6 separate regions of the Homo sapiens genome follow, and regions 1, 2, 3, 4 and 6 are each reported to be linked to region 5. The links are microRNA targets in miRTarBase. Many come from high-throughput screens and were not tested one by one. Region 5 holds a microRNA gene; each other region holds the end of a gene's coding sequence. Distances are from middle to middle.
Evidence for each region. The annotated mature microRNA hsa-miR-548bb-3p reads CAAAAACCAUAGUUACUUUUGC and lies in region 5 at 2,336-2,357, shown strand. An mRNA with a match to its seed (bases 2 to 7 or 8) in the 3' UTR can be bound and repressed. Matches are read on the target gene's strand: a 7mer-m8 pairs with bases 2 to 8, a 7mer-A1 pairs with bases 2 to 7 and ends in A, and an 8mer does both.

Region 1: the mRNA of ELAPOR1 is a reported target of hsa-miR-548bb-3p. Seed matches in the 3' UTR shown: 7mer-A1 at 592-598 and 7mer-m8 at 252-258.
Region 2: miRTarBase lists TADA3 as a target of hsa-miR-548bb-3p. Seed matches in the 3' UTR shown: 7mer-m8 at 1,081-1,087.
Region 3: miRTarBase lists POGK as a target of hsa-miR-548bb-3p. The part of its 3' UTR that is shown has no 7-base or 8-base seed match.
Region 4: the mRNA of ACSL3 is a reported target of hsa-miR-548bb-3p. Seed matches in the 3' UTR shown: 7mer-A1 at 637-643.
Region 6: the mRNA of CCNI2 is a reported target of hsa-miR-548bb-3p. Seed matches in the 3' UTR shown: 7mer-m8 at 2,301-2,307.

The regions. Positions count from the first base shown.
Region 1 is chr1:109,202,652-109,206,786 of GRCh38, reverse strand. ELAPOR1 (endosome-lysosome associated apoptosis and autophagy regulator 1) reads right to left here. Exons shown (of 22, transcript NM_020775.5): 22 at 6-3,843. The coding sequence ends at 3,775. Among named protein-coding and RNA genes, the nearest start is that of SARS1, 9.2 kb to the left of the region's middle.
Region 2 is chr3:9,776,927-9,781,061 of GRCh38, reverse strand. TADA3 (transcriptional adaptor 3) reads left to right here. Exons shown (of 9, transcript NM_006354.5): 9 at 513-1,095. The coding sequence ends at 705. It also overlaps a transcript of OGG1 not described here. Among named protein-coding and RNA genes, the nearest start is that of CAMK1, 9.0 kb to the right of the region's middle. RefSeq lists an enhancer at 2,623-2,917.
Region 3 is chr1:166,849,713-166,853,847 of GRCh38, forward strand. POGK (pogo transposable element derived with KRAB domain) reads left to right here. Exons shown (of 6, transcript NM_017542.5): 5 at 1-711; 6 at 2,873-4,135. The coding sequence ends at 697. Among named protein-coding and RNA genes, the nearest start is that of POGK, 12 kb to the left of the region's middle.
Region 4 is chr2:222,941,311-222,945,310 of GRCh38, forward strand. It overlaps ACSL3 (acyl-CoA synthetase long chain family member 3), which reads left to right. Exons shown (of 17, transcript NM_004457.5): 17 at 187-3,329. The coding sequence ends at 344. Among named protein-coding and RNA genes, the nearest start is that of ACSL3-AS1, 24 kb to the left of the region's middle. RefSeq lists a silencer at 2,712-2,861.
Region 5 is chr3:60,616,037-60,620,171 of GRCh38, reverse strand. MIR548BB (microRNA 548bb) reads left to right here and starts at 2,302; the gene lies at 2,302-2,367. All of the region lies in intron 4 of FHIT (fragile histidine triad diadenosine triphosphatase), which reads left to right. It also overlaps the pseudogene MTERF1P1.
Region 6 is chr5:132,752,262-132,756,261 of GRCh38, reverse strand. It overlaps CCNI2 (cyclin I family member 2), which reads right to left. Exons shown (of 6, transcript NM_001039780.4): 6 at 1,859-3,396. The coding sequence ends at 3,292. The region is part of intron 9 of SEPTIN8 (septin 8); the gene reads left to right. Among named protein-coding and RNA genes, the nearest start is that of CCNI2, 6.8 kb to the right of the region's middle.

The sequences.
Region 1 (4,135 bases), not on the chromosome of region 5:
ACAACTTGTAAGGTATGTTTTTATTTTACAAAAAAAAAAAGTGACATGCAATAACCCATCTTCTAACAAACTATTAACGCTTGGATTACAGGGTAAAAAGGAAATCCAACCAGCCCTGATGAAAAAAAATTCGATTTCACAAAGCTGAAAAAATCTATTACAAAGTTTCTGTTGTATAAATATAGTCAGTCTTATCTTTAATGTAGTCAGACAAAAAAAAGTTTTGTTGGCACTAAAACAAAAACAAAAGCAAAAACCCTACTGCTTGAATACACCACAATCTTCATTTGTATTCCCAGCCAAATACAGATGATGTCTATAGCATGACAGTTACTGCATGTTCCAGGACTCAAGGTAACCAAATGAGATTTAAACATTTTATCATACTCCCTCTACCAACAACAGCTTGGACAGACCACTTTAGCCCTGGGTCAAGGACTAAAGCCTTTGTTCATAGAAAATTGAACATGTAGGCCAGGCACGGTGGCTTACACCTGTAATCCCAGCACTTTGGGAGGCCGAGGTGGGTGGATCACTTGAGTCCAGGAGTTTGAGACCAGCCTGGCCAACATGGTGAAACCCCATCTCTACTAAAAACACAAAAATTAGCTAGGCGTGGTGGCGCATGCTTGTAATCCCAGCTACTGGGGAGGCTGAAGCAGAAGGATCACTTGAACCCAGGATGGGGAGGCTGCAGTGAGCCAAGATCATGGCACTGCACTCCAGCCTGGGCAACAAAGCTGACTCTGTCTCAAAAAAAAAAAGGAAAAGAAAATTGAACATGTGTTTGCTCTCAAGTGGGCGGACAACTCTGTGAGTTTGCTGAAAACCATTGAATCGTATGTTTTAAAGGTGAATTGTGTAATATGTGAATTATATCTCAATAAAGCTGTTAAAAATATATGACATGCCTAACTTGCTAGGGGAGCAACAGGTGACCCCAGTAGCGTAACTCAGGAGTTCCTGACAGGTCACAGGGCAGACCTGCAGAAGTCAGCACGGTAAGGGGTAGTAAAAAGTAGCTCCTTAAAGTATTATGGCTAAAATCAGTGGAGTCAGAATAAAGAAGTCAAAGACATATGTAATTTTTCCTACTGTTTCCGGAATAGTCTAAGGGCTGTCTGTGGCCTTTGTCACAAAAGAAAGCTATTCAGTGAGACAGCAGGTGCCCAAGTATTGCTGAGGCTACAGAAGACTTTAGGCTGGAGCTCAGGAGCTGCGTATCTGCATCCACACTGGGGGAAGTTCCAACATGGACACAGGTTCTGAGAGCCTGACTCCTACAAAAGGAGGGGAGAATTTGGATACCCAAAGAAAAACTGGATTTATTAAACCAAAGGGACTCCCTGCCGTCACCAACACTGTTGATGGCCAGGGACCACAGCCTGGCTCTAGTTCTCATTGACTCTTACAAAGCCATTGCCAGGGCAGCAGTGGCTAATCAGATGAGCATTTTGTGGCAGACTAGTCACTTGCAAATGCCATCCCCTTTCTATATCTACCATCTGGTCACCAAATGGTCACTGGAGAAAGGGCACAGGCACAAATCATGGGCAATTGGGGCTTGACCAAGGGAAGGTCACCCTAGCCTGATAGTGATGGAGGCAGAACTGCCAGTAGAAGAAAGAAGAAGGTAATTTAAAGTCTTGCTCTGGTTTTACCCATTCTAGGTACTTAAAAGTTCATTGATAATAGTTTGTGTAAAATTGGGGAAAATGGGCATAGAAGACACCCACTCTACTCACCTTTCAGAAGGGATGTTGCCAGAAATTGGACCAGAAGTCTCTTTAGTTTTTTATCACACAAAGCAATTGAGAATGAAAAAAAGAGAAAGATAGGGGCTTAATAGTGAGAAGTATCCCAGCTTGGTGAACACCTTGTTTATTTTTAAATTTTTTAGAGACAGGGTCTCACTGTGTTGCCCAGGCTGGTCTTGAACTCCTGAGCTCAAGCCACCATTCTGCCTTGGGATTACAGGTGTGAGCCACCATGCTGGGCCCAGTGAAAATCTTGTTAAACTCTCCTAGCCTTCCTTCCTTGAAGACTGGTTTGATTCTGGTGCTGGCGTATGGGCCTGGGATTCAGTTCCTTTTTTGGCCAGCCTAGACGTTTATTCTGTGCCTGAGCAGATGCGTTAAGCTTAGAAGCAGACATCACGGCCACCTCAGGCCCATGCCATTGTGGGCTGTATCCCCTAAAGTGCCCCATTAAAATCTTGGCCTCCTTGTGCTCTTTTCAAATAAGAGACCCCTGTTCCATAATATGGCCCAAACTTCTAGGACGGGGGCACTCAAGGATGGGGAATTTTCCTCACTGACAGGGTTTGCTATGTCTGTGGGTAAACCCAACAGAGGATAAGGCTGGAACATCTGGGTTTGGGGCTTACCTGGTTCTTTTCAGTGTCATAGAGTGATAGTGGAAGGTTTAAAAAAAAGATAGGGAGGATGTATCCACCAGGGCTTTGGGCATTTTCTTGATGAACTTATTCCTTTGGCTTCAGTGAGAATATCTATCATTTACTTAAGAGAAGGCAATGAGCTACGTGGTTTAAAAAACAAATAAAAGGCTGAGTGCAGTGGCTTATGCCTGTAATCCCAGCAGTTTGGGAGGCTGAGGCGGACAGATCACTTGAGCCCAGGAGTTGGAGACCAGCCTGGGCAACATGGTGAAACCCTGTGTCTACAAAAAATATAAAAATTAGTGAGCCTGGTGGTGCACACTTGTAGTCCTAGCTACTTGAGAGGTTGAGATGGGAGGATAGCTTGAGCCCAAGAGCTTGAGGCTGCACTGAACAGTGATTATGCCACTGCACTCCAGCCTAGGTGACAGAGTGAGAGCCTGTCTCAAAAACAAAAACATTCCTTGTTGCCTCTCTTTGTGCTTTTCTTTTTTTTTTTTTTTTTTTTTGAGGCAGAGTCTCACTCTGTCACCCAGGCTGGATGGAGTGCAGTGGCGCGATCTCGGCTCACTGCAAGCTCCGCCTTCCAGGTTCACGCTATTCTCCCGCCTCAGCCTCCCGAGTAGCTGGGACTACAGGCACCCGCCACCACGCCCGGCTAATTTTTTGTATTTTTAGTAGAGACGGGGTTTCACCGTGTTAGCCAGGATGGTCTCAATCTCCCGACCTCATGATCTGCCCGCCTCGGCCTCCCAAAGTGCTGGGATTACAGGCGTGAGCCACCGCGCCCGGCCTCTTTTTATGCTTTTCAAGGCTTTTCTTACCCAGGCCTTGCTCCCCTTGCCCTCAGACTACCATTTTCACTCCCTTTGAGCTGGTTATCCAGGGGAAATGGATCCAGGCTGCTATGAAGATTATCCACCAGGGAACCCCGACACCCTCCTCACCCAGCCTCTCTCCTGAAGAGATCATGAGCTGAGGGCATGCGAGGAAAACTCCCAGCTGTTTCTGCCCTTAAGTTAGAGGACAGAGGAAATAGTTTCTATACTTAAGAAGATAGAAATATTTTCATTCCAAAGCTATAAGAATTATGAGCAGACGAAGCTATGGCTCTGGCGGATGGGCCATTTTGGGAAACAAGATACAAGCAAGGGCATAATTTACAAACAAAGTGTGGGTATATTTGGCAGGTTTGAGGCAAGCAGAAAGGAGGGTTTGGGTACTCTATAAAAAAAGATCTGAAATTCAAACATCTGATAAGGCCACAATGAAGAGATTTCCAGCAGTGGGTGTTGCAGGATGCTGGCACCCAAATCGCCGCAGGCTTGCAAAGGTGCTATGCAAGGTGAGGAGGCAGGTGAGGCAGGCAGTGCCTCTCACAGGTCCATGTCTAGGCCTCCTGAGGATGTCTTCAGCGGCACTGAGTCAAATCCATCAGGAGTCCTCTGAAAGAGAGATGGTGACAGGAGCTGGCTGCTGCACAGGGGCAAGTTTGGGGACAAAGGAGAGAAATGGAAAATAGGTGACAGAAGGAACCCTTATGAAATTCCTGTTTCAGTGGCTTTGTGGAAACACAGAAATGAGATACCCTCTATTCTGCTTGCTCCCTTCAGGGTCAGTTGGAGAACAATAAAAATCTTTTTCTTTTAGGCGGGGTGTGGTGGCTCATGCCTGTAATCCCAGCACTTGGGAGGCCAAGGCAGGTGGATCACCTGAGGTTAGGAGTTCGAGACCAGC
Region 2 (4,135 bases), 51 Mb from region 5:
AACTCCTGGCCTCAAGCAATCCTCAGCTCCCTTGGAGTTGGGACTACAGGTGTGCACTACCACACCCAGCTAATTTTTTAAATTTTTTGTAGAGACAGTCTCACTATGTTGCTCAGACTGGTCTCGAACTCCTGGGCTCAAGTGATCCTTCTGCCTTGGGCTCCCAAAGTGCTGGGACTGCAGATGTGAACCCCCATGTGCAGCCAAGACTTTATTCTTCTAGAGCAGTTTTAAGTTCACAACAAAATTGAGAGAAAGGTACAGAGAATTCCCGTATCTCCCTGTCCCCACATGTGCACAGCCTCCCCCGTGATCAACATGAGTTAATATTTTTCAGGAGCTTAAGATAGTGCCATGTAAGTGTAGGTCAGTAACTGCTTTTTGGTCACGACTGTATGACACAATCCACAGGCATGCCAGCCTGGGCTGGTGGGTAGGCTCGGTCTTGAAGAGGGAGGGGTTGTTCTCTGGAGGTGGGCTGACCCTGGCACCTGGCTGGCTGGTCCCCACAGGCTGGCAAAGGAGGAGGTGAGCCGGCAGGAGCTGAGGCAGCGGGTGCGCATGGCTGACAACGAGGTCATGGACGCCTTTCGCAAGATCATGGCTGCCCGGCAGAAGAAGCGGACTCCCACCAAGAAAGAAAAGGACCAGGCCTGGAAGACTCTGAAGGAGCGTGAGAGCATCCTGAAGCTGCTGGATGGGTAGCCCTCACCCCTGCCTCAGGCTGATTATCTGGCCTAGGGGAGGGGAAGGGAGGCCCACTTCCTTCTTTGGGCACAGGAAACATTGGCCTGTGGCTGTCCCTCAAATGGCGGCAGTCTCTAGAGGGCCGTGGCCCTTCCCCTGAGGTCTTTTGGCCTAGCTCTGTACAACCAGGACACAGGAAGCCCTGCTGGGCTAGCCTGAGGCCTAGTCTCTGCTTGGTCCCCGAGATGGGGTTGGAGGGGACTTCGTTTCTGGGTCTTCCTCTTCCCCTCTTTACCATCCCCCACTCCCTAATCCCCTACCCCTGTCTCCCCTTCAAGGACTTCTCCCTTGTGGTTTTGTAAAGTGCAAACTTAAGAATAAAGTGACTGCTGTGGTTTTTCAAAAAAAGCATCCAGTCTTTGAATGTCTGTTACAGTGGGGAGGAAGGAACCAGTGTGGGTGGTAAGGTTTGTGGGGGGTATGCTTGGTGGCTCTCAGCCCATGGCCACTAACCCATGGCATTCAGTCAGGGAGAACTTTCTGAGTACCTCTTTCTGAGGATACTTGTGGCTGCACGTAACAATGCCCCCCCAGCTCAAAGTGGATTCACAGTAAGGAAATGTGTTGGCTGCAGGATGGGCAGTCCTGGGACAGAGTGGCCTTCACGGTTAGCCAATCTAGCAATTCTTCAGGGTCATCAAGGGTCCAGGTTTCTTTTTTTTTTAATTTAAGTTCTAGGGTACATGTGTACAACGTGCAGGTTTGTTACATATGTATACATGTGCCATGTTGGTGTGCTGCACCCATTAACTCGTCATTTACATTAGGTATATCTCCTAATGCTTTCCCTCCCCCCTCCCCCAAGGGTCCAGGTTTCTTAGGGGTCACCACACTGCCCTCCACAGTGTCGACCTCTGCCTAAGGTGAGTCCTTCTCTGGCTGTAGTGTGGCAGTGGAGCAGTTGGGGCCAGATGCTTCCTCATTTACATCCAGCACAGGAGGGAGCCGGAGCCAGCGGGCTTCCATGGCCCATCTACAGAAGCAAGAAGCCTTTTCCCAGATACCATCATGTTTCAGTGGCCCAAACTCAGTCTCACATGCCCATTCCTCAGTCACTGTGGCAAAGGAGACTGTAATGGCTTTATGCCAGTCAGAGTGGAGTTTGCTACTCCATCAAGGTGGTGGAGAGAGAGTAAAACCCAACAAGATCTGAGTAGGAAACAGGGAAGTGAGTGCTAGATAGACCACCGACAACGTCTCTTCCACAGCTGGGGCAGGAAGCTTGGCCTAAGGGACACAGATGAATAAATATGCTCTGGTACCTGCCTCAAGTTGTTCCCAGACTGGTCTGAGAGAATCAGGGAATAATTTGCAATTTACTGTGGGAAGGTTGAGGTCCACGCAGGAGAGAAGGGAGGGTAAGATTCCCTAAGGAAGTGACCTATGAACTGAGCCATAAAGAAGGAGGGCGAACATGGCCAACATTCTCGTATACCCAGCACCTCTCTGTTGGAGAAATGTTCCTTCCCCATCACACATGGTTCTTGTCCAACTGCCAAACTAGGGTGCACACATGACCCCAGCTTGGCCAGTCAAGTGCCAATCCCTCTAGCCACAATGATTAGTCCCAGAAGCAGGCATGTAACCCAAGCTGGGTCACTCGAGGCCCTCCATAAGATTGCTCTGTGGATGCTGAGAGGAGAGTTCCACTTCTTGTTGGACCATAAGCCATAGACTATAAACTCAGTCTACCCCAGTGACCTGCTCTCCTCCCATGGGGAAAAACCTGCTTGAGAATAAAGCCAGCTCAGAAAAGCAGAGCCAGGAGATGGAGAAGTGCTGCATCCAGCTATTCTTGAAGCCACCGGATCCTCCCTTAGACTTCCCACATATATCAGCCCACAAAGGCTTCTTTTGGCTTAAACTAGTTTGCTTTAGAGTTTTGTGATTTGTAACTAAAAAAGGCCTATTACAAGTGAATTTTGGCAAAAAGAAAGATGAAGTAGGATCCTGAGAGAGAGGACAGCATGAGGCCCTGCCTCCCACTAGGTGCTGGGCCAAGCTGCTGCAATTTCTCAGTGACTCATTGTCCCCAGGTTGCTCACAGCCTTCTCAGAGAGAAAAGACACCCACACATGCAATGATGAGAAACCAACTCTAATCATAATGATAATGCAATGAAGGGCTCAGTAAATGTTAGTATGCACCAGGCATTGTTCTGAACTCATTCAACTACCTAATATTATGGGGTAGGTATCAGCTACCCCATAATAACATCCCATTTACAGATGAGGAAACTGAGGCTTAGGAGGTTACATACCTTGCTTTGTCAAGCAATTGAGTGGTTGAGCCAACATTCAAACTCAGGCCATTTGGCTTACAGAGAGAGCCTCTTCATTACAACTCACTGGGGCCCCACTCCCATTACAGTGTATGTGAATGGTACTCCCTATACTTGGGCAGTGCCCAACCTGTGCAGCCATATATGGCAGCTCTGCTTGAAGACCCCCCTCCTCTTAACCACTCACTTCCATGTTCACTGGGCCACACCATAAGTATGGTGGGCGTTGTTGGTAGAGAGTTCCAAGAACAGAGACAGTTTTGTGGAGGAGGTGGGATGAGAGCTGACATCCCAAAATTGGATGGAATTGTGAAAGAAGGAAGACAGATATAAATAGAAAGAAGAACCCTAGAAGACCGACTGGGCCTGGTTCACCAGAGAAGAAACTTAACTTTCAAGGATCAGTCATGAGCACTCTAGCTGTTCTCTGTTGCATACCTACTATCTGCCTGGCACTGTGCCAGGCCCTTTACCCACCCCTCCTATCTGATGCTTACCATGCACCTCCAAGGAGAGTAATATTCCAGCCTGCAGATGACACAGAGACTCAAAGAGATGCTGTGCCTTGCTGAGGCCATGCAGCCTTGATGCAGGAATAGTTGCTGCCCCCAGGTAGCACCATCCCTGGCAGAGTTCTTACAATCATATCAGTGTCTGCTGGAGCCAAAAGATGCCTCCTTTATGAGTGTGGAGGAAGCTGGGTTGTCATGAGGAGGGCGGATTAGTTCCAGTACCTCAAGTCTCCAAATTTAATTCAAAACAATTCTGATTCCTTATCACTAGTTTGGAGGCAAAGCCTTTTGTGTCTTGGCCCTAGAAAGCATCTGTCTTGCACATCATGGTCTCCCCAGAGTTCCAAATGCCTTACAGCTGACTTTCAGCAACACCAGGGTGAGTGAGAACGGGGAGGGTGAGCTCTGACCCACAGTGGGTCCCCAGCCCCTGTCTGCTCCTGAGTACTCTGGGCACCAAGTGCTCTGGGTCCCAGTTGGCTCCTGCTGAAAAGAAAGTGATGGCAGGAGCTTTGTGGAAATGTGGTCGGGGAGTAAATTTATTTCTTGGCCTGGGGCTCAGGACTCAATGGAAAGAACCAAGTCCAGTGGACTG
Region 3 (4,135 bases), not on the chromosome of region 5:
TGATAACCAGGGCGAAAAGCCTGTCTTGGTCAAGACACCAGGCAGGGAAAAACTGAAAATCACAGCAATGCTTGGTGTCTTGGCTGATGGGAGGAAGTTACCACCGTACATCATTTTGAGGGGAACATATATCCCCCCGGGGAAGTTTCCCAGTGGGATGGAAATTCGCTGCCACCGGTATGGGTGGATGACTGAAGACTTGATGCAGGACTGGTTGGAAGTGGTGTGGAGACGGAGGACAGGAGCAGTGCCCAAGCAGCGAGGGATGCTGATCTTGAATGGCTTCCGGGGCCATGCCACAGATTCCGTGAAGAACTCCATGGAAAGCATGAACACTGACATGGTGATCATCCCAGGGGGTCTGACCTCACAGCTTCAGGTGCTGGATGTCGTGGTCTACAAGCCACTGAATGACAGTGTGCGGGCCCAGTACTCCAACTGGCTTCTGGCTGGGAACCTGGCGCTGAGCCCAACCGGGAATGCTAAGAAGCCACCCCTGGGCCTCTTTCTGGAGTGGGTCATGGTCGCGTGGAATAGCATCTCAAGTGAGTCCATCGTCCAAGGGTTCAAGAAGTGCCATATCTCCAGCAACTTGGAGGAGGAAGACGATGTCCTGTGGGAAATCGAGAGTGAGTTGCCAGGAGGAGGAGAACCACCAAAAGATTGTGACACCGAAAGCATGGCTGAGAGCAACTGAAGGGAAAGGGAAAGGTAACCACTCAGGAGTAGATACTCAGTGCCTTTGCTGACATGTCTGTGTTCTACAAACACCTTCTCTCCATTATTTTTCTGTTTTTAAGTTCCCTTAGAGCCTACAGTGCAGTAGTGTAGATCAGGGGTCCCCAACCCCCAGGTCACGGACCATACTGGTCCATGGCCTGTCAGGAACTGGGCTGCACAGCAGGAGGTGAGCGGCAGGTGAGCAAGCATTACCACCTGAGCTCCGCCCGCTGTCACAGCAGCGGCATTAGATTCTCATAGGAGCACAAACCCTGTTGTGAACTGCACATGTGAGGGATCTAGGTTGCAGGCTCCTCAATGCCTGAGGATCTGAGGCGGAACAGTTTCATCCCAAAGCCATCCTACCACCCACTACCCCGCACTTCCTGGGTCCCTGCAAAAATTGTCTTCCATGAAACCAGTCCCTGGTGCCAGAAAAGTTGGGGACTGCTGGTATAGATAACAGACCATTAGCATTTTCTCCTTTATATGAAACATTTATTATTTGATTTATTTGTGTCTATTTTGCTCTGTGGCTTGGACCCAGAAACACTTGTATAATAGGTGAAATGAACAAAGAATGAGCTGCCAGAACATCTGAGAGCTGTAAAGTTAAAATTATTTGGACCCAAAGAAGCATAGTCTGACGTTGTTCAGTTCACACAAAATTTTGTCTGAAAAGCCAACTTTTTTCTTTCCCTTTTAAATTATGCTGAACATTTAGGGCCAGTATGTGTAACTGACATGCTGGGACAGTTGTACTCACTTTTGCTGGCCTGTAGGACTGTGACATAGGGAGAACACTAAGTGTGTCCTCCGGGCCTCGGGTCTCAGTCCTGGAGCTATCTACAGTATGTTACCAGCGAGTAAGAATAATAGCTTCTACTTGCTTTTCCCTACAGAGTTCAGGAGTTTTAAAACGTCATCTTAGTCTCATTATGACCTTCACATGGGCTATGACAATAATTTCCTGTAGTCAGCAGATGTCTGAAGGAAGATATTTTTTAACTGAATCTTTACACCAAAAAAAGAAAATAAAACGGTGCGTATCTAGGACTCTAGTGAGGGCTGAGGACAATAGGCCTGGAATTTTCTGGGTTGAGTACACAAGAAGAACAGCTTTCAAAGGAAAGTAGGAATGGAGGCCTAACTGAGACAACACTAGTGAAATGACCCCACCCACCTACACCTCCAGAGAGGAGGAGGATGAGCATGTACAGCAGGGGGGACACCCACAAAGAACAAACAATTCATTTACCTGTTCGTTCTCATCTCCCTAATTATAAATTAAATTGATCCTCCAGACAGTGTTTTATATGAAGGAAGAAGCCACCTTTTTTACAGAGGACCTGAAACCGTCAACCATCTTCACACATTCTTTTTCTTTCTTTTAAAGTATAATTAGGTATTTCCATCTTCCTTGCTTTTTTCTCCAAATGAAATGCTAATGGGAGCCTTATTTTACCCACTTCAGCTATATAAGTCCATCTGTGTTTCAAAGAGTGACTTATGTCTCCTGCCTTGCTTCCAAATTAAATTGTACTCATATTGCTGAATCCCATTGTAATTCTGGGATCCCTGGAATTACAATGGAGCAAGAAGTTCTTACTATTACATTCAAAATCACCAAAATTGCTTTTTTTTCCCCCTTGGGTCCTCCTTGCTTTGAGAAACCCCATGAATCCAGCCTCCCTTTTCTGCTGACCCTTATATTGCCTGCATTGGATATCAAACTGAATTACATTGAGTTTCCATCTTTTCTTCATTTACCTTTTGCTTTTCCCTCTCCTTGTTAGATAACATTTTTGTGCACTTTTAATTTCCTAAGCTCCTTACCACCTCAGGGACATGATTAAAAACTTCCAGAAGAGGAAAGGAGAAAAAGCTATGCTAAGTTGCATTTATGAATGTTGGCCTGTAATATTGGTCATGAGCTTTTGCTCTTCTAGTCTGCCACAATTCTCTCTGCAGCTCCTGAGGAAGTGATGGGAGTAGACAGATTCACAGTGAACAAGAGATTTGGGAGACCAAGTGGGCATAAAACTACGTCTTGGCCTCTATTTGGAAATCTGAATGATGGAATTATTATGTTTGTTAAAAGTTATACCAAAAAGCCAAGGGTTAATTCATTTAGGTTCTCTCTGTTTTCCAGCAAATGGAACTCTGATTTAAACAGCTGGGGATGAAATTCCTCAAGATGATTATTCCTGAAAGTGTGGATGCGCTGGATGCGCAGGGAACATCAGGAAAAGGCCACGGGGCTCTGAACAGCCCCGGTCCAGACAGCAGCCTGTACATCCATCCCAGGACACAGCCCAGCCCCTCCCCACACCATACAAGGTATCAGAAAAGTCTAGGACCTATCATTTCATCAGAGACATGATCAGAAAAGAAACTGCTTCTGCCCCATTTCTTGTTTTGGAGATTACTCCATCTGTCCATCAAAAGAAACCTGTAAATATGAAAGAACAAAGGTTATTTCCTGGAGAAAAGACAATTTATTCAACACCAACGAGGGACTCATCATATGGGCACAACTCTGGTGTCCTTCTATGGAGAAAACCTCAAGTAAAGTTTTATTCTGCCTTTGAAAATGCTTCCAAAAGTAGACCCTGTCCCCACACAGGTCAAGACTACAGAGAAGGCTTTGTAGAAATGTGTCACCTATGTACACCTGCTACTTACACATTTCCTCTTTTGGAAAAATGAGATACTTAGAATAACAAGAAAATTAAGACATACTGGCCTGGTGCCAGCAGATGGCTTTTCTATAGACAAACTAGGTTAGTGTGGAAGATATAGGTTAAAATAAACTATGCTGTTTTATTTATCTTCCCAACCTGATTGGCAGCTAGACTTTTTTAGGGTCTCATTTAATGGCCCTGTTTTTTTCATTATTATATTTAATGATAGGGCAGGATTTCGTATGCAAGCTCTTGTTTCTCAGGCTGCCTGCAGAAGAAGTCGCTATAAATTATCTGTTGTCTACATGGTACAAGGCCCATTGACTCATCTGATGCTTGTTTTGTTAATTTCTTTAATATTTTTATCACGGGGCAGTGGGAGGGCTTGGGCTTTTAGCCACAGCTGTTTTAAGACTTCTGATCTCCTGCCCTGCAGGAATAGGTGGGAAGTCATTGAATTTTTACACTATAGTAATTTGCATTCCCACATAAGTTTGAGTGTTACGAAAACATTCCTTTAAAGGGATCTGTGCTACACAAAATATGCCAGGACCTCACAGACAAAGCCATTGCTAGAAATGTCATTCCAATGATCAGATCTGGAAACAGGCTGCCATAACCACTTTTCCTTCTTGTAGACTCAGCTCACCTGTATATTTAAACTGTTCTTGGCATCTTGAAACACCTATTTCTACTCAGGTACTCATTGTCCTGTTACTGATTCACCTTTC
Region 4 (4,000 bases), not on the chromosome of region 5:
GGACTTGTTAAATAGTTTATTGTTTTACTTATGTTTGTATTTTGAGGAATAGATTCTTTAGAAGTGACATTCATGGTTCACTTGTTGGTTGTGCATTTTGATGGATACGCAAAAAGTGGGGAAGTTACACCATTTGCTAAGAACTTAAATACCTTTTCTTCTTTTCTTTTTTTTTAATCATCTTAGCAAGTCTGGAAAAGTTTGAAATTCCAGTAAAAATTCGTTTGAGTCCTGAACCGTGGACCCCTGAAACTGGTCTGGTGACAGATGCCTTCAAGCTGAAACGCAAAGAGCTTAAAACACATTACCAGGCGGACATTGAGCGAATGTATGGAAGAAAATAATTATTCTCTTCTGGCATCAGTTTGCTACAGTGAGCTCAGATCAAATAGGAAAATACTTGAAATGCATGTCTCAAGCTGCAAGGCAAACTCCATTCCTCATATTAAACTATTACTTCTCATGACGTCACCATTTTTAACTGACAGGATTAGTAAAACATTAAGACAGCAAACTTGTGTCTGTCTCTTCTTTCATTTTCCCCGCCACCAACTTACTTTACCACCTATGACTGTACTTGTCAGTATGAGAATTTTTCTGAATCATATTGGGGAAGCAGTGATTTTAAAACCTCAAGTTTTTAAACATGATTTATATGTTCTGTATAATGTTCAGTTTGTAACTTTTTAAAAGTTTGGATGTATAGAGGGATAAATAGGAAATATAAGAATTGGTTATTTGGGGGCTTTTTTACTTACTGTATTTAAAAATACAAGGGTATTGATATGAAATTATGTAAATTTCAAATGCTTATGAATCAAATCATTGTTGAACAAAAGATTTGTTGCTGTGTAATTATTGTCTTGTATGCATTTGAGAGAAATAAATATACCCATACTTATGTTTTAAGAAGTTGAGATCTTGTGAATATATGCCTGTCAGTGTCTTCTTTATATATTTATTTTTTATTAGAAAAAATGAAGTTTGGTTGGTGATGCATGAAACAAAATAGCAAGAGAGGGTTATAGTTTAATAGTAAGGGAGATAACACAGCATGTGTAGCACCAGTTGATAATTGGTCTCTAGTAGCTTACTGTCAAAATGTTCAATGAAGTCTTCTGTTCATCTGTTGAAACTAGGAAAATACCCAAACTTAAATGGAAGAATTCTGAAAGAGAGGATAGAATTTAAAGAACAAGAGTATATAAAGTTATTCTTTGAATATTTCGTTGACTATATGTACATTGAGTTATCTATATTTGTAAACAAATTAGTCATGGAAAATTATTCTATCTCAAAGTCTCCTTTTAGTCTAGATAATCATTATTTCATTTTAAAATTAGTGTTTTTCCTAGTTTGCACTGATGCGTGTATGGATGTGTGTGAGTCAGTGGTAGCTTATTTAAAAAGCACCTTATCCTTTCTCCCATAACCTTTGTACACTAAAAAATGAAAGAATTTAGAATGTATTTGATGATAGCATTCTCACTAAGACACATGAGAATTTAACTTTATAACCGCGTGAGTTAAGATTTAATTCATAGGTTTTGATGTCATTGTTGAAGTTATTTGTAATTCAGAAACCTTGCTTGTGTGATACATAGTCTCTTCATTTATTACTGCTTGTCTGTTGTTATATCTGGATTATCAAAAGCAATAGTGCACCAATTAAGATGTGCTCAAATCAGGACTTAAATCATAGGCACCACATTTTTCATGTCAGACTAGTTACTTTGTTGATTCTCAGTTACTGTAGGCATCAAAAGGCAAAAATCAAAAAAAAAAAAAACAAAAACAAAAAAAAAGATGAACCTAGGTCTGTGTAAAGTAAGGGGAGTGTTAGGAGCAGCCAGGACTGTGTAGTGTGTGTTTGGTTGCATCACAAACATCGTATGTGGAGACATTGCAATACAGTGTTTTTTGTTTTCAACTTTTCTTGTATTGTATATTTGTATTATGTTTTGAATGCTTTTCTCTTTTCATAATTAAATATTAATGTTTGGGATAACTGCCAAGAAGAAGTAAAAATATTGAATGGAACTTCTATATGAGGATGCTGTGATCTAAAAATTAAATCTCAGTGGGCGGAGAGAATTTGTTTCTGATGCCTTGTCTTTAGAATAATTGTTTGCTTTCAGATGATTAAAAAAAGGAGATTGTATCTAGGAAAAAAGTGTGAATGCTTCAAAGGAGAGATACTGATAATTGTGACTTGAAATAGTGTCAGATGAATTATGTAGCTGATCACTGATGGAACCATCTAATGAGGCAGGCTTAAACTCTATTTAGTTTCGTTTGTTTTCTCATATGAAGTTTATAATTCCTTTCAGTCCTAAAATGTCAGATGCCAGGTGTCAAATGCCACAGTAGAAAGTGAAATTAAGTAGAGTCCCCTTTTAAACAAATTTGTCTGTAAGCAAAACTATCTTTAGTGACTTAAAAAATAATATCCTCTAAAATTACCCTTTCAAGAGGAAAAAACTGTTCAATGAAAAAACCACTCAATTATGACTCATATAAGAAATACTGGTTTAACCAGGAGATATTTGGGGAGCAAAATTTTAAGGAATTTCAAATTGCTAAATCTAATACAAATATCTGACAATAAGATACAGATCTAAAAGAATGGTTCTTAAGAACTATTGTTTACTGGGAATAAACTAAGCTCTATGAAGAATTCGTAAGCATTACATGTTCCAGTAAGTTTAGCAACTTAGAGCCAAGACTGGTGGCCACCTCCATTTATTTCCCCACTGCTCCTCCACTGACATCCTTCTTAGCAGAAACTTCATGAAAAAGTTTTTGCTGACACAGAACAAACCTGAAAGTAGTATCTACTTTCTAAATACTACTTTGCTTTTCAGTAGTGGATTTGATATTTATAATGTTCTCTAAAGCTTGCAACTTTTTCAGCAACGTTTAAAAATAGATTAACCTGGAATAACTTACTTGTTTGCTGCTAAAATACTCAAGATTTTGCCATTTTTAAACAACCAGTCCCTGTGATACAACTTTGAAAAAACTTTTAAAAATCTCTGATGTGTGGGCTCTTTTTTTCCCATAAGAATTATGTACATCTGTGATGTTTTACAGGGGGATCCGCTTTTAAACAGTGTACATATTGGACCACACTGAAATGTCATATATCCTTTCTCTACTTAAAATTGGTTATTTACTGTGAGTTCATTTCCGATGTGTTCTTGGTTGTTGCTGTTTTCTGCCTGAAGACGTGTATCATAAAGAGCTACATGGTATGGACTATTTATTTGTAATTTGACATAAAGTTTGAAGAATAAAGATCTATAAAAGTTGAAGTTTCTGATATTAAAGCTCTTAATATATTGGCTTTTTTTTTTTTTTTTTTTGGTTTTGGTTTTTAAGAAAAGCTGTTCCTGTAAAAGTGAAACTTTCATTGACATTCCTGAAATACTTGAAGAAGGAGTTTGGGGAATTTTCCATCCTGACCTAACAACCTAACCAAAGGAAAACTTTTTATTCTAGAAATTCTGTTAATAATCTATTTCCTAGCCTTTTTATATTCTAACTTTCCCCTAACCCTTCCCGAATTCCTCCTTTCCATTCCTCCTTTTTGGTTCTGACTGCCCAGAAGATATACTGTCAGCATTTTAAATTCCAAAATATTCATACAGCATAAAATCTTGAATAGAGGTGGTAAATTGAAATTTGGCATCAAAATTAATGGGGTAGAATCTACAATGTGGCAGAAATATCTAAACTTTGTGCCAACATTTAATCCAATAATTGTGGGAGGAAGAGTTGTATCATGCTGTGTTTCAGAAACTAACCTCCCTCACCCACCCCATCTTTGACTGCCAGTCAATATTTGTGGGTATATGTAACTTTATCATAGCATACTTTTGTCTCTGTGTGTAATCCTGTAACAAAACCAGTTAAAGCTTTCTTTACATAAACATTTGGCATCTTTGTGTGTTTTGCATTAACTTAGACAGTTGTGCCTAATTTCTCCTCATTAACTTTG
Region 5 (4,135 bases):
CCACATCCTCACTAGCACTTGGTGTTGTCATTGTTTTGAATTTTCACAATTCTAATAGGTACATAGTGGTATCATTGTTTTAATTTGCAATATCCTAATAATATATGTTGAGCTTCTTTTCATATGCCTGTATTCCATCTGTATGTATTTTTTGGTGAGGTGTCTGTTCAAGTCTTTTGCCCATTTTTAAATTATTTTTCTTAATGAGTTTTAAGACTTTAAAAAAAATATTTTGGATAACAGTTCTTTATCATACATGTTTCTTGCAAATATTTTCTCCTAGCCTTTGGCTTGTCTTTCTCAGTTGACAGTGTCTTATATCAAGGAGACGTTTTCAATTTTAATGAAGTCTAGCTTATCAATGATTTCTTTCATGGATTGCACCTTTGGTATTATATATAAAAAGTCACTTTCATGCTCAAGATCAGCTGAACTTTCTTGTACATTATTTTCTAGGAGTTCTATGGTTTTACATTTTACATTTAGGTCTGTGATTCATTTTGAGTCAATTTTTGTGAATAGTGTGAGGTCTTTGTCTAGATTCTTTTTTTTTTTTTTTTTTTTTTTTTTTGCATGTGGGTATCCATTTGTTCTAGATCCATTTGTGGAAAAGACTATGTGGGCTTTCTCTTCTGTTTCACTGATGTATTTGGTGGCTTTTGCCAATACCACACTGTTTCAATTACTATAGCTTTGTTCTAACTCTTGAAGTCGGATAGTGTCAGTGCTCCTACTTTGTTCTTCTCATTTAATATTGTCTTGCATATTCTGAATCTTTTGCTTTTCCATGTACACTTTAGAATCAGTTTGTTAATATCCACAAAAAATAGGTTGCTGGGATTTTCATTTTCTTTGTATTTATTAGGCAAAAATATTCCTTTATTTACATTTTATTCACATTTAGTTTTTTATGCGCACATTTAAAGGACTTTATTGTAAACAACGACAGTGATTCTAGAACAGTAGATAGCTTTTTTAAATGTAATTACTCTTGTAAGAGGAAAAAATACATGATACTAAAGGATTGTATTTTGTGACCACCTATAATGCAACAAATCATCTACTTAGTTGCTATGTTAATCTTTGCTGCTGTAACAAATTATCAGACTCAGTGGCTTCAAACAACACAAATTTATCATCCTGTGGTTCTGTAGGACAGAAGTATGATACTGGGCCCACTGGGCTGAAAAGGTACCAGCCGTACTGCATTCCTTTTTGGGGCCTTTAGGGGAGATTCTGTTTCATTGGCTTTTCAGTTTTCTTTGTGGCCCCCTGCATTCTTTGGCTTATGGTCCCTTCCTTCTTCAAAGCCTCCTTTTCACCTCCTTCAAAGTGGTCAAGTCTGTCTTATACAGCATCATTCTGACCTCTTTTGCCTCCTTCTTCCACTTTTAAGGACCCTTAGCATTATATTAGGTCCACTCAGATGATTCAAGGTCATCTCAAGGCCCTTAACTTAATCAAATTTCAACTTAATCACATTTGCAAAATCTTTTTGCATAACATATTCGCAGCTTCTTCAAATTAAAACGTTGACATCTTTAGGTGTGGCCATGATTCTGCCTGCCACAGTAGAACTTGTTTTCAAAGTAATCAGGTTTTGCCCTCAGCAAATTAACGCAGGAACGGAAAACCAAGCACCACATGTTCTCACTTACAACAGGGAGCTGAATAATGAGCACACGTCAACACATGGAGGGAACAACACACACTGGGGCCTGTTGGAGGGGTGCTGCTGGGAGGGAGAGCATAAGGAAGAGTAACTAATGGATGCTGGGCTTAATACCTAGGTGATGGGATGATCTGTGTAGCAAATCACCATGGCACTACCATCTCTACAGCAGCACAGCCTGTATCAAATAATGGTATGTTGGAGTAATTCAAACTGGAAAATAGGTAGCTAGGAGGACTGCACCTGAGCATATCAACCATGAGTTTCCATAAACCTGTAAAACAAAATAGCCAAAGAATTATTACATATATATATCTGTGGTTAAGAAATCATACCCCTCCTTTTTGAAAGGCCCAAATTCAAAATGAAAAGATACCACTACATTATATGACTGGCTTTCAAAAATTCCCCAGTGTTCTGCTTAACTTTTTAAATTTACTTTGTATCTTTTTTTTTTAACTCCAGAGTAGAAGAGTGATGCTTGATGTCCTCAAGTTACAGCCAGCATTTACTAATTCTTTGATTTGACTTTATAAAGTACTTATGCTTGAATCCAGAACCCAAGGATTTTTCAGTTATCACAAATTACTTTCACAGAAGGCTAATTTATTATTCTATGAGACAATCCATTAGATTGGTGCAAAAGTAACTATGGTTTTTGCCCAAAAACCATAGTTACTTTTGCACCAAGCTAAAATATTCTTCTCACTAAACTTTTTCTCTGCCAAAAGATCACATCTGGATAACTTTTTTTCCCCACATCTGGATAACTTAAGGCAAGCTTTTGTACCTCTTCTTCAGTACCTCAGAGAGAAAACAGCTTCTGTTTGATATTTGTGTAGTTTGTTTTGGCATAGTCATTGGAAAGGTCTAGGATTTTGGTTCCTGGACCACATATTAAAATAGCAATTCCCTACTGTTCAAATTGAAACTTGCCTGTAAAAATTCAATGTTAGTTTTTACCTGCTTGGTACCCTGAATTAAGATGAAAGGGTTTTAAAAAATCATCTTTCTTACAAAATCTGTGGGATCATTGTGACCCAATGAAAAATATACTTCCTGCAAAACTTTAACCATCTGTTTATTCAGATCGAGACTATTGGAAAAGGTACAAGGGACATTGGTCAACAATCAACAAAGGCATTTACAGGTAAATCCAGCTGAGTAGAGGAACTCATAGAATCCCTAAGTTTAGGTTTTCATGGGACAAAAGAAAGCATTCAGGAGAATGGCCCAAAATATTTACAGTATCAAGATCTGATATCATAATCCTTCATAGATCCCATTGTTTTGAAAGACGTTCAAGAGTGTGTGTTATAGCTTTTAGTTATTTTGATATGATGCTAACAATCACTTCTTTGCTAGCTCCTTTGGAACGAAGAAACATCTTCAGGTCCTGCTCATTGGGAACATTCTGTTAAAAACTCCAGGCTGTCGTTTCTTTGCCATGTCAGTATCCACTTCCATAGTAAGTTATTCAGTGGTTCCTCATTCTCCAAAGCTCATTGTCTGCATCGTTTCACTTCACACCAAAAAGCCTAAGTGAAACTGATTTGAAGAGCATTTCTGCTGAAAATCAGGTCATCCAACATTTTGAATTAAAGTGAAAGTTCTCATATACCAGAGATTTCTTGGTGCCATAATAGTCAGGTAGCCCAAACCTTTCGGAATGCTGTGTGCCGTAGATGGCTTTTACTTTGGCTTGGGATTTTTAAAACTGAGGTTGCATTGAATGTATAGGTCAAGTTGAGAAGAACTGATATCTTGACAATATTGAGATTTCCTGTCTGCGTATGTGGATAGCTTTCCTTTTTCTTAGATCTTTTGTATTTCTTTCAGCAAAGTTTTATAGTTTTCCTTATATAGATCTTTCACGTTTGATTTATACCTAAGTATTTAAATTTTTGGCATTAATGTAAATGGTATTGTGTTTTTAATTTCAAGTCCCAATTGTTCATTGCTAGCAATAAGAAGACAATTGACTTTGTATATTAACTTTTGTCCCACAAGCTTGCTATGATTGCTTATTAGTTCTAGAAGTGTATTACTTGTATAATTAAAAAAATTTTAAAAAAGAATCAAAGAGTATGGAGGAGAAACTTTCAGCACACCTGTGCACATCATAATCATTAAAATGTGATGAAATATGTTGACACCAGGTGTTGCTTTTGTGAATTTCCTGTAGTGGCTTAGAATCACTTTTGCTTATATTTTCAAATGTGAAGATTTGTATAATAAATTAAACTGAACAAACAAGAAAACATCTGGGGTGAGTTTTTGTAACAGGTGTTGTGTAAATAGGTCTTGTGGATATCCAAACAGGTGACACTACCTAAAATATACACACATGTTGGACTCAACATGCACAGAAACAAAGCATGTGGAATAGAAGAACCTAGACAATGGTAGTCCCAAGAATTGTGACCTAATGACAAGTGATATTACTGACAAGGGTGTTAATAA
Region 6 (4,000 bases), not on the chromosome of region 5:
GTACCCTGATCTAGGTGGTTTGTAATTGTGCATTACTGACTGCATATGTTTGTGTATGTGTAAATGTGGGCTCCCTGTTAAGTGGGGCTCATGGATACGAGGCCTGAGGAAGTGTGGCTTGCTAGTCTGTTACGTTAACATGCTTTTCTAAAATTGCTTCACGTGTTAATTCATTTACTCCTGCATTCATTGACTGTTTTTGTTCTTTTCCATTCACTTTGTACTTATTTTTTTCATTAAATTTTGCATTTATTTTGAGTTTTTGTGGTGTCTTTTTTGGGCAGTAGCTTTTCTGATTTAACGTTTCCTGAGCCCATTAATCTGCTACAACTGTGGTAAAATACAGCTTGTCTGTTCTTTGAATTTTGTGGAGGTTGATCTACTTCTGTAGGAATTGTTTTAATAGGAAACCCTGCTACAGACATCTGTGAAAGGCTCTTGCATAGGTGGGGGATGGAGGGAAGAGTCACAGGAAAGTTACAGGAAGGTAAAGGGGCAGCCTGTGGTCCATGAATCTTTATTGGTTAACTGGGTGCAGGACATGAGAAAAGGGGCACCTGCCCTTGAGGAGTGTTCCTCCTTAACACAAAGGCTTGCCACGGGACTACTAATATTCGAGTGCCAGGACTGCTCGGAACCATATTACATGCATTAACTCCTCTAATCCTCATCCTAATCCTATGATTAGGGACCATTCATCCCCATTTTATAGCTGAAGCACAGAGGTTTAAGTAATTACCCAAGGTTACATGGCAAGTAACTGGAGAAGTTGAGATTTGAACGCTGGTAGTCTGTACCCTTAAATCCTGAGCTACACCTGCTCCTTGGCATCTCAATGGAATGATGGAAGAGTAGTGAAAGTGTGGCTAGTGTTAAAGTACACAGCCTGATGGTGTGGGCTGGTGGACCTGAGACTGTTTTTTAGAGGTAGAAAGCCCTAGGGGACAGGCAAAAGTGGCTGAGGAAGAGCAGACTGGTGAAAAGAAGTGATAAAAAGTATGTGGGTTTGTTTTTTAAGGAGCTTTCTCCATTGAGCACTAGGTAGGTTTGGGAAGACCAAAATGAGAAAATGGGGACCCCTGCAGGGAGAGTGGTATGAACACATCCCTAATGCAGGCATAGCTCAGCTCTACTTGTGCAGGCAGCAGGGAGGCAAAGTAAAGTATTCACCAAGCTTTGAAGGACAGAGACTCTCCAGGAAGCCAGGGGGAGGAGGGCCTCCTAGGTGGTGGAAACATCATCAAATGACTTGGCTCATTCATTTCAGGGAAGTACTGTTTGGACAAGTTTAAGACAGGTCTATGATGCTCCCCCTGCCCTGTTCCTCCCTGAGCCCACCTACCTTTCTTTCTGCCATAGCATCTGCCTCTGAGCTTTTTCCATCTCCATTTTCTTCAGCCTCATTCCTTCACCAATCCCTGCCTTTCAATAGCTGGGGTCAAAAGGAAAATAGATTGTATCCATATTTCTCCCTGAGAAATGTTTCCCAATCTCTGAGTTGAGGTGGGATAGGAGTTCCTAATGTCAGAAAAGAATATTAGAGGGAAGTAGGATGGGACCTGGGGCCCCACGGCAAGCTTGAAAAGCACATAAGATTTTTAAAAATCCACGAGTGGGACTTCGGCAATACAAAAGTGAGCTTCCCTATAGAAGAGTTCTATCATTTATAGAAAGCCAGAGCAGAAGGTTGTCTCTTACCCCAGTCCTAGGACTCACATGTCTACCCTCTGCTTTCTCCAAGAGGTTTGAGTTGGATCAGCTCTCAGAATCCAGCTCACATCCATAGCCACCTGGTTAAGCAGCAGATGTCTTCCAGCAGTTCCCCTAAAGCCTGGGATGCCTAAACTGGTATGGGCCCTCAGGATGTCCTTCTGCCTCATGCACTGTGGTCCCACTTACACTGGAAGGAAGGAGGCAGAGGGCACTCAACGGCCACCACTGGAAGCTGTGAGCAGCATGGCCTCAGCATCTCCATCTGTAAAATGGGTTCTGGACTAGAGGAGAGTTCTTGATATGACCTAGGAGATAGTGTTCCAAATGTATCTGACTCTCGCAAGGCTAAATGCATGGTAGCTCAAAATAAGACTCATACAGGATCGGAAGCAATTAAAGTGTAATTTTAACGAAAGCACCAACAAGCAAAAGTGTGTCAAGAAAAAATACAGATGTATACTAACTCTATAATATAGACAATTATAGTATATCTGGCCCTTGACCACTTTGCACCTAGTAAATCTTTCCCCTCCCACCCCATGGCTTAGCACATTTACACAAACACACCAAAAAAAAAAAAAAAAAAAAAAAACCATAGTTCACAGTGGAAGACTTCACAAACCACCTCTGAATGTGTGGCTCAGTCATTCATGCCCCCAACACAACTTACACAGCCCCAGCTGGCATCTTTGTCAGCTGCACTCCCCTGCTTAGAGAATGGCTCTGTGGTAGCACAGCATGAGAGAGGCAGCCGGCTCCTCCTCCTGGCAGCACTGTGGTTGGAGCAGGCTTGGCCTCAGAACCTGCTCATCCCAACAGAAAGCATTCAGAGCTGTGCCTCCCATCACAGGTGTTAGCCTATAATACCCATTCATTAGCACAAAATCCCTCTAGTTAAACTAATAACTGAAACCACTTTGCTTAAGAGTAACAAAGGAAAGATATGCCTAAAGCTTGCTCAAGTTACATTAAACAAAGCATACTTTATAATCCAGTCCTTGTAAAGGGAAGACATAAGTCATAGCCATGGTTGGGTAAATGCATCTGCAGAGACTGTCCCATGTGAGGAGTGGCAGGCAGGGTAGTTGGGACTGGAAGCACCACATATGTGTTTGGGATAAGCCTGGGAAGTTGGAAGGACCTGGCCAGCTCTGGCAGGTAGAGCAGCAAGAACTGGTCAGAGCTAGCCCCAGCCCTTCAGCCCTGAGCCAGGCCTGCCTCTTGGTTTCATATTCCAGCGCTCCCAGGGGCCAATGCCAACCCTTGCTGGAGAAGGAAGGTAAAACAAGCTGCCATTTGAACATTCATTCATACTCCCTGGCTTCAGGCCCAGAGGAGAAAAAGGGAAGACAGGGTCATAGTCTATCAGACCACCCTGACCTCTACTGACCTCAGCCTGCCTTTCCCCTCTCCCCTTTATTTTTTTTCCAAGGGCTCAGTTGGGAACTTTTTCTCAGTTGCTCTTCCAGAGCCACCTTCCCTTTTTACAGGATTCATAACAAGCCAAAGAACTCATGGTAGTCCAAGCAAGGAGGTTTCACACTATGCTCTGAAAGCCCCGGGGTGGAGGCAGAGGGGCTAGTTGGCAGGTGACACAAAGTTGTCTGTGCAGGAGGATGACTGAAGACTTCTCAGTTGCTGCATTACAAGTTCCTTGCAGCAGCTGTACTGCATATCACCAACCTGTATTAGAATAGAGTGGCCATCTTCAAGCAGAACCATCATACATTCTAAGAAATTGGCAATTGAGTGCCAAAATGTTAGCATGAAGCAAGTTCAGGAAGGTCCAACCACCCAACTAAGGACCACTAATCCTACCATCTCAGGGACATCCATTTCCAACCTCAGTAAAGTTGTCATTAGTCTAACTATGCATTCCATCCTAACCTATCTGTTCTGAGGGATTCTGACACACCCCTCTCCTCCTTGTGCCCCCACAATGCTTGCCTCATGGTACCCCTGTACCTGGTACCACACACTCATACAAAGGAGAGGTGAAGGAGTTTAGAATTTATGCTCCTCAGTATTAAGCTCAGGGTTGCTTCCTCCTAAGCCAGACATACCCCTGACTCCCCACAGTCCTCTTGGCTACAAGGGCTCCCATTGAGATAAAGATTCTCTCACTCTCAGAGACCACCCCCATTGGTCCAGTGAAGGGAACACATGTCCCATCTCAAGTGCATAGAGCGTGACCAAGTGTGGAAAGCCTAGCCTTTGGGCAGACTCTTTCCAGGGTTATGGCCAGAACATTTTCCAGAGGCTACAAGGGCAAAGGGTACCCCTTTGG